Linked DNA regions of Homo sapiens: region 2 is linked to region 1. Evidence: fine-mapped expression QTL. Tissue or cell type: whole blood. Region 1 holds a variant in brackets; the other region holds the start of a gene. All regions are shown on one strand. Distances are from middle to middle.

Evidence for each region. PIP is the estimated chance that this variant, and not a neighbour inherited with it, causes the effect.
Region 2: it holds the start of GHRL, and the variant in region 1 is fine-mapped to the expression of GHRL in whole blood (TOPMed, PIP above 0.99).

The regions. Positions count from the first base shown.
Region 1 is chr3:10,312,792-10,316,999 of GRCh38, reverse strand. SEC13 (SEC13 homolog, nuclear pore and COPII component) reads left to right here. Exons shown (of 9, transcript NM_183352.3): 3 at 1,564-1,679. Among named protein-coding and RNA genes, the nearest start is that of SEC13, 6.2 kb to the left of the region's middle. The variant T/G (reference allele first, on the strand shown) is at 2,538.
Region 2 is chr3:10,290,937-10,295,144 of GRCh38, reverse strand. It overlaps GHRL (ghrelin and obestatin prepropeptide), which reads left to right and starts at 2,198. Exons shown (of 6, transcript NM_016362.5): 1 at 2,198-2,303; 2 at 3,694-4,208. GHRLOS (ghrelin opposite strand/antisense RNA) reads right to left here. Exons shown (of 6, transcript NR_073568.1): 6 at 1,696-3,077. RefSeq lists enhancers at 2,006-2,300, 2,111-2,360, 2,371-2,440, 3,952-4,208.

The DNA.
Region 1 (4,208 bases):
GATGGAGTTTCGCTCTTGTAGCCCAGGCTGGCATGCAGTGGCGTGATCTCAGCTCACCGCAACCTACGCCTCCCGGGTTCAAGTAATTCTCCTGCCCCAGACTCCCGAGTAGCTGGGATTACAGGCGTGCGCCACCACTCCCAGCTAATTTTGTATTTTTAGTAGAGGCAAGTTTTCTCCATGTTGGTCAGGCTAGTCTCGAACTCCCGACCTCAGGTGATCCGCCCGCCTCAGCTTCCCAAAGTGCTGGGATTACAGGCGTGAGTTTTCATTCAATATCTTGTTTAACCTTCATAACAACTGTTGAGACAGATGCTATCTTTAGCCTTATTTAAAGATAAGGGAACTAAGGCCCATAGGATGTTGGTAAATAATAAAGATAAGGAAACTGAAGCTCAAGGAGATGAAGTGTTTTCAAAGTTTGCACAGCAGGTAAACTAAGGAGATAGGATTTAGATCTGAAAGGTACTATGTCCTGCCTCCTTCCACTGAGAAGCATGAGAAGTGCTTCAGAAACACTCCTCTACTGCCTGCCCTCCAAGAAACCAAGGCCTGATACAGTGGAGGGAGTTCCCAAAGAAAAATCAGGATGTGTTCCTTGCGTAGGGAGGTGAGAATTCCCATCTGAGCCAGACAGAATGAGTGCCTTTGAATGGGCATAATTGCCCCTGGTGGCCATGGGAGTGCAGCTGATAGTCCTGAAACTCCCAGGGTGGGACAGCTGGGGAAAGGGACATCCATTGGAATAGGCAGGGCCAGCAAGCAGAAGGGACCAGGGTGTTCAGTGGTGCAGGAGGCATGGTGCCTCAGAGACCATCACCCTGCGGACAAGGATCTGCAGGTAGGGGCCAGGCCTAGTTCTGCATGCTCAGTCAGCATCAAGGAATTCGGTTCACAAGTGGTGAGAGCAGCGACACTTAAGGCATTGTGTTCCTTGGGTGGAAAGTCTGGGAAGCTCTGGGCACACTACTAGGGAAAAGGTCGAGCAGAAGCCCCAAAACAAAGGTCCACAAAGGATCCAGGGCCAGGGCTGGAAAGAGCCCAAATATCTGAATGGAACCCTGTGTGCAGGCCAGAGCTGCATCACAGAAGACCTGACTGGGGACTCCAGGCAGTCAGAGGCCCACTCCTTTGGCCTGCTCCCATGCATTAGCATCAGGTGCTAGGGCTGAGCTGAACCCAGGGGTATTCCCCTTTAGCCCACAGAGCCTAAGAACTGAATAGGGCCTGAGAGGATGGAGGAAGAAGAGGGCAGCTAGGCCAACTTTTTTTCTCCCATACCCACCCTGCGGAACAGGAATGGAAGAGCCCTTCCCTGAGGTATGTAAAGGGTCTGTGACACCAGCTGGGCATGGCTTGCTTTGTCCATTTCAGAGAGACACTGCCCATAGGTGAAGTGAGAATGTCCACATGCTAGCTTCCTGCCTGAGGGTGATGATACTTTGAGATCAGATTGATTTCAGGGAGATTCTGGTCCAAACTAGACTCTGTGTAGTGACAGCCCTCACCCCACCCACCCACCCACCCAGCCTGCAGGCTTCCCGAGCTGTCCTCCCTTTGCAGCACGACGCCCAGATGGACTACTATGGCACCCGCCTGGCAACCTGCTCATCAGACAGGTCCGTCAAAATCTTTGATGTGCGCAATGGAGGGCAGATCCTTATCGCCGACCTCAGGGGGTAAGTGCTGGCGAGCCCAGGGAAGGGCTCCAGGAATGGTGTGGGTTCTCAGGCCCTGCTTCAAGCGTGGGAGCAAAGCATGGGAGCCCAGATTCAGAGCAACCCCAAAGCACATTTAGCGGAGAGGACGCTGGGATCCCAGCCAGCCTGGCTGTCCTCAGCGGACGTCCCCAGGGATGATGCTGTTAAGGGCACAGGTGGATACAGGTGTGAATCTCAGCTCTGCCACTTTATGTGTACCCACCAGAAGACCTTGGGCAAGTGACTCAGTTTCTCTCTCAGAGCCTTCATCTGCTCATCCTCAAAATTGGGCCAATGCTACCTCCTATCCAGCTAGTGTATGCAAGGCCCTGACACAGGGCCCAGGACACAGTAAGTCTTTAGTGCAGGCAGCTACTGCTACTTTTAAAAGTGGTAAACAGTACCATTTCGTTCAAGTTTAGCCAGTATGACCTAAAGTGTCACAAAAGCATCACCGTAAGAATAATGTAAGAATGCTATCATTTTATAAATCCCATTGTTCTGCCTATATGCCCGTGGCACGTGTTCAGTGATTATTTACAAATGTTTGACCTGCCCTGCTCCCTACTGAGATTCTTGAGGAAGTCCTGGCTCATTTTTATGGCCACATCTCTACTGCTTTCCCTCAGCTCACTGCCTTTCACGTATTTGTGGGTTTGCCTGGGTGCCGTGGATCTCCAAGGGTTCTGTGAATAGAGTTCAGGGGTTGATGAATTGGGACAGGGGGAAAAAAATGCATTTTCAGTGACTCTGATATTTAGCATTTCCTTCAATTATGGATGTAGGCCAGAAACTTCAGTAGTATTTGTAGTGCCTGTCACTTTGTCACCAGTAGAA[T/G]TCACAGATATTGTCATCACACATCACGGTTACTTAGCTACCTCAAAATACCACTTATGCTCATCACAACTTTGAAATTACAGTGGTTATTAGACCTGCCGCTAGGGTTTGTTGCTTGAAGTGTTAACAAAGAAGTACATGCATCACTATCTCATAAATTGCTTTATAATATTTTGATAACAGGCTGGGCAAGGTGGCTCACGCCTGTAATCCTTAACACTTTGGGAGGCTGAGGTGGGAGGATGGCCTGAGCCTAGGAGTTTGAGGCTGCAGTGAGCCACGATGGTGCCACTGCACTGCAGCCTGGATGACAGGGTGAAACCCTTCTCAAAAAAAAAAAGTTGATTACTGTATAATTTATAATTGAATTTTCTTTATAAGCCTAGTTCTGTGTGTTTTGTACATTAGTCTGATGAGGGTCCATAACCTTCCCCAGAATGCACAGAAAAGATTAAGAGCCATGACAGGTGGGTGCTCAGCATGTGTTTGTTCACTGAATTAAAAAGCATAAACTAAGTCAGTGTCCATTTGGGGAAATGGGCCTAGAAGCTCCCCTCTGTCTGAGTGTCAAATGATCAAGTGACTGAGGAGCCAAATCAAGCTTCTCTATGCAGGAGCCCCCCAGGCAGGCAGAGAGCTGCTGCAGTGCAGCGTGTTGGCCAAGGCAGTTATGTTTGCTGTGACTCTGTCCTTTCTGCTGTTTTTCTTACATTCAAAGGATGTGAAATATTGGAGGGATAAAAAAAATTCCCACCCCATTCTTTTTTCCCCTTAGTAAAAACTGTGCTAGTTGTTGGAAGATTGAGTCTACTCAGTTTCATTAGCAGCAGCTTTGTAGGGACTGGGAATGTCCTGTTGTCCCAGCCAGAGGGAGGAGGAGACTTGAGTGTGTGCAGCCCACGGTGAAGGAGTAAACCAGGAGCAGCACTAATAGCTAATGGGTATTGAGTGGCTTTTTTCTTTCCTTCTACCAAGCATTGTTCCAAACTTTATGAAAGAATTCTTATTGATGTCTCCATTTTCAGGTAAAGAGACAAAGATATCCTTGCCTAAAGTCAAGAGCTAGTGAATGGGAGAATGGGTCTGGTCTCCTAACCACTAACTCTACCATGCTACTCTACCTCTTGAGTGCTAAGGTGCAAAACCTTCCCTGGGCCAGAGAAATGGTCACCGTACAAAGCCTGGCACAGAGCATGTGCTCAGATAGCACCTGTTATCAGGTGAATGGATAAAGATCAGAAGAGAAGGGAAAGACATGCCTTTCGAACAAATTAAAAGAGTAGTGGAAAACATCAAAATGAAACCAATAATGCCTCCTCAGGAAGCTGACCGTCGGGAAGGATGAATAGCAATTCAGTCTACAAATATTTCCTGAACACTTCTGGCTGGAAACCTTGGACCAATTAATGACTATGCTGTAGACAGCACATACAGACAGTGCTGGCTGCAGTCTGGGCAAGTGAGGCTCCTGCCTGGCCAGGACAGGAAGGCTGACCCAGAGGCTCAACTCTCTCTCAAAGGCTCTGTGACCTTAGGTTGCTTAACCTCTTAGGACCTCAGGCTCCTCACTGTCCACTGAGCACCCCTTTTGCAATGGCATTGTATAGTTCTCCCTTTGAAGTTCTTAAGCAATTCTGCCCTGATATATCGTCTCAGGGAGCCATTTAGTTC
Region 2 (4,208 bases), 22 kb after region 1:
TTGAAGTCATATTTGTAAATCCTAGAGCAACCACTCAAAGAATAGAACAGTACAGTATAGCTAATAAGCCGACGGTGAAGACAAAATGATACCATTCAAAACCCTCTAAAAGTGGTTATGACAAGAGAAAGAAAAGGAAGAACAGATGGGACAATGGAAAAATTGGTGACTTACAAATAGTCTGGAGATTAACAGTAATGTGCTAACACTGGTGTTTTAATTTTGATAAATGTACTACGGTTATATAAGATATTCACGAGTGGAAACTGAATTGGGTTATTCAGAGAGAAAGATTTCATCTTCCATATGTTTATATTTTCTGCTGGAAGCAAGCATTTATAATCAAAATTTACCTGGGATACTTGGTAATTTATAATCAAAATTACCTGAGATACTTGAAACAGATTCTAAAGCCCCCACGCCAGAGCTACTGGATCAGAATCCAAGGATGGAGTCTTATAAACGTGCATAAAACTTATGAAGCTTTCCTCATGAATCCAACACAACCCAACACAGGTCTGTATCTGGAAATTGAGACGAGATGGCCCTCCAAGCCACGTCCCACCCTGAGGTCGTCCTATGGCTCTTAGCGGTCCATAGACTAAAAGGCTGGATGATCAGCAACGCTGAGACAACAGTTTCAGTACAGCAGTGGGGATGAGAGGCAAGGTCAAGTTTTGAGGGGCCAGGACACAGCAAAGAAGAGGACACAAGGAAAGGGGAAGGAAATGGAGATGGTAACACGAGGGGAGGGTGGGATCGGTGCACAACAGACGTTTTCAGGATTAGGAACCTGGGTGTATTTTAAGGCAGAAAGCAGAAGCCACTGGAGGGGAACAGAAGACACGAGAGAGGCAAAGTGTTAGAGCTTTGGCCCCAAGATGGCCGGAGGCTAGGGAAGCCCCAGTGAGAGAGGCAGAGCTTGGCGAAGAGGAGGGATGAGAGAGCATGGCTAAGGTCAGGGAGGATTTAAGAGCGATGGCCGCCTATCTAGAATGAGCCGCATGTGGCTGCTGAGCATTTGAAACATGGCTAGTCCAAATTGAAATGCACTGTAAGAACACACACTGGATTTCAAAGACTACACATCTGTAATCCCAGCACTTTGGGAGGCAAAGTCAGGCAGATCACTTAAGCCAGGAGTTCAAGACCAGCCTAGGCAACATGTCAAGACTCTGTCTCTACAAAAAATACAAAAATTAACTGGGTGTGGTGGTGTGACCTGTAGTCCCAGCTACTTGGGAGCCTGAGGTGGGAGGATCATCTTAGTCCAGGGAGGTGGAGGCTGCAGTGAGCCATGATAGTGCCACTGCACTCCAGCCTGGGTGACAGAGCAAGAACCTGTCTCAAAAAAATATATATGTATATTCATTTAGACATATGCTGTTGCACACTTAGACTATAGTATGGTATCAGCATACGTTTTATATTTACTGGGAAACCAACAAAATTCGTGTGACTTGCTTCATTGTGGTCTGGGACCAAAGCTGTAATGCCTCCAAGGTATGCCTGTATATTTCTATTGCAAAATGTGAATCTCGAAATTATAAAAGCTACAACTAGGACAAAAAGCAACCCCACCAAATAGCCCTATATCAAAGAATAAAATCTCTTTCTAGAACCCCAGAATTTGCCTCTTTCAGACTGAAGTTTAGCCAAATCTATGAAAAAAGAGCTTGCTAAACCAACTAATTATCAGTACAAATAAAATTATAATGAAAAGTCTATGAAGATAATTTGTTCTCAGATGCCCTTCACATATAGCAATTAATTCACAAATGATGAGTCACTCATGTGCCTTCATGAAGGCAGGCCCTCAAGAGACCCGCAACAGAAAGGAAAGCCACCGACTGGAGAGAACCTGCTTCCTGAGCCCCACCAAGTTCCAAAAAGGAGAATGGGGCTTCGTCCTCACCCTCAAGGAGTTGCCAAACTGGGCTTGGTTATTATTCACACTTGAAAAGAATGAGGAAGGTCAGCCAGTCCCCTCCAGGTCGCTCGGGCTTCCTCCAAGCTCCTCTTGGTTCAAATTTGCTGTGTCCTCCAGCCGGCATCTCTCCTCTGTTCCGTAACTGACAGGGCAGCGAGGTAGCTTCCGGATGACTCCTCCCGCCATGGTTCTTCCGTCCATCAGCTCTTCCTTCCTCAACTCTGTGGTATGTGGCTAGGGGAGTTTCCAACTCCCAGGGGACATTTCAGTTCCCCAAAGATAACACAGCTTTGCACAGTGGATGTTTACTTGCTGGTGGTCTTATCTAAGATCAACATTGGCAGCTGTGCCCGGAGAGGCCTCCAGGGTCCAGGTAAGTGGAGGCTTCATGTCTCAGGAGGTACCTGGTCACCACAGTTAGGATTTTTCTGTTTGGGGATTTTTTTTTTTATGGGTTGGTGGCTCTGAAAAAGCTGCAAGTCTTCTCTGAGGACTACAGACCTCTCTCCACCCTCTCCACATTCAGCCTCTCTGGGCTCCAGGGCCAAAAGATGTCTACACTCAGGTGGCAGACAGGCCTGTGAAGACCTCCTGGTGACATGCTCATATGTTGCTGGGACTAAAGGTGGGATTTTAGCCACCACAGTGGGTTGGTGGTGAGATGTTTACCAACAGGAGGTACTTTGTCCCTCATGTCCACTTAAAGATTCAGTCCAACCCGGCCTGTGCTTCTGCTGTCCCAAGAGACTCTAGAAAGCTCCAATCCTCCCTGAGGTTGATCTTTTAAGTCAGGGTAGGTGGTCATTCGGCAATCAACTGCTCTACTGCCTCAATGTCCTCCTCACTGGACGTCCTGCCCCAATTCCATCCTGTTCAGCGCAGACTGATTTTCCTGGAACACAATGTTCATTATGGAGCCAGATGGCATATCAGAAAGAGCACTGTATTAGGAGTCAAGAGATCCATGGGGGAATCCCAGCATTGCCCCTGATGGCTGTATAGCTTTGGGGAAAGTGAGGCCCTCTTGGCATTCAGTTTTTCTTCCAGCGAAATAAAGGATTCAGCCTCCCAGAGCTTTAAAGTCTTTCCAACTCTTTCATTCATTCTATGGTCTCTCTCTCCTCAAGAATCCTCAGTGGCTGCCCTCCTGCAAAAAAAGCCCAAACTTCTTGGGCTAGCAGTTCCCAAGGCATCCATCACCTGGCCCCAAACCACCTTCTTATGTTTTTGTTATGACCCCATCGCCACCCTCCCCCAAGCCACCCAGCCTTCTCCATGCTGCCCTGATGTACTCTACCCACGCCTTCACCTCCCCTCTGCTTGCCGCAAAGCCCTCCCTCCAAAGCCCTGCCCCGAGTTCACCACAGGCCTCTTTCCTGGAGCCTTTGCTAACATCCCTGCCGCAAGCCCCAGCCTAAGGTGAGCTCCTCTCCTGAACTGCTAGAACTTCTCTGCAGACAACTCATTGGCCCTTAGGGGTTCCTGCCTGGGCACCCAGTTGGATGAAGCACTCCAGAAAGGAAGAAATTCCTGGGGCCGAGGGAAATGAGGCAGTGGCCTTGGCCTATGCTGGGAAGTCCTATGGGCCTGGTATGAAACCATTGTCATCTGCAGGGTGTTTCACAGGTTAGAAGCCACTTTCCCCCCATCGCCTCATTTCACCCTCAAAGACTCTGGGTAAGGGGAATTATTTGTGGTCGGCGTAAGGCCAGTCAATGAGAGAGGAGCCAGGCCCGTGCTAAGCGTAGATCTTCCACCTCCAGGTCCAATGCACTTCCCTCTCAGAAGAGGCATCCGCTAAAATAGGGACCAAAGCTGCTGGAGGGAGGCAAGGCAAGCTGCTATGTGAAAAAACGCCAGGCCAGGCAGTCATGTCACACCTGGCAGAAATGACTGAAGCATAGCCACTGGCTGAAGTTATCCCCACACCCACTCTCTGGAGAGGATGATCAGGAGCAGTCTGCTCAACCGGGAGGTGGGACTCCTCCTCGGGAAGGTGTAGAATCACCAGCCTGGCTCCCTGCGGACTCCCGGGGCTCACAGAGGCCAGAGCAGCAACAGCACATGGGAAACAACGGGGCGCTGGACTGGGGAGGTCTCAGAGCTCTCCTAGTGATGACAGCCTCATTTTACCCAGGGAGAAAGGGCGAGTAAGCTAAGGTCACACAGCAACAAAGCTGCACCCAGACCCCAGAGCCACTCTCCTCCCTCCCTCCTCCACCAGGGCCATGCCCACTTGGGGCACCCCGCCACCGTGTTCCAGGGACAGCTGGAGCAC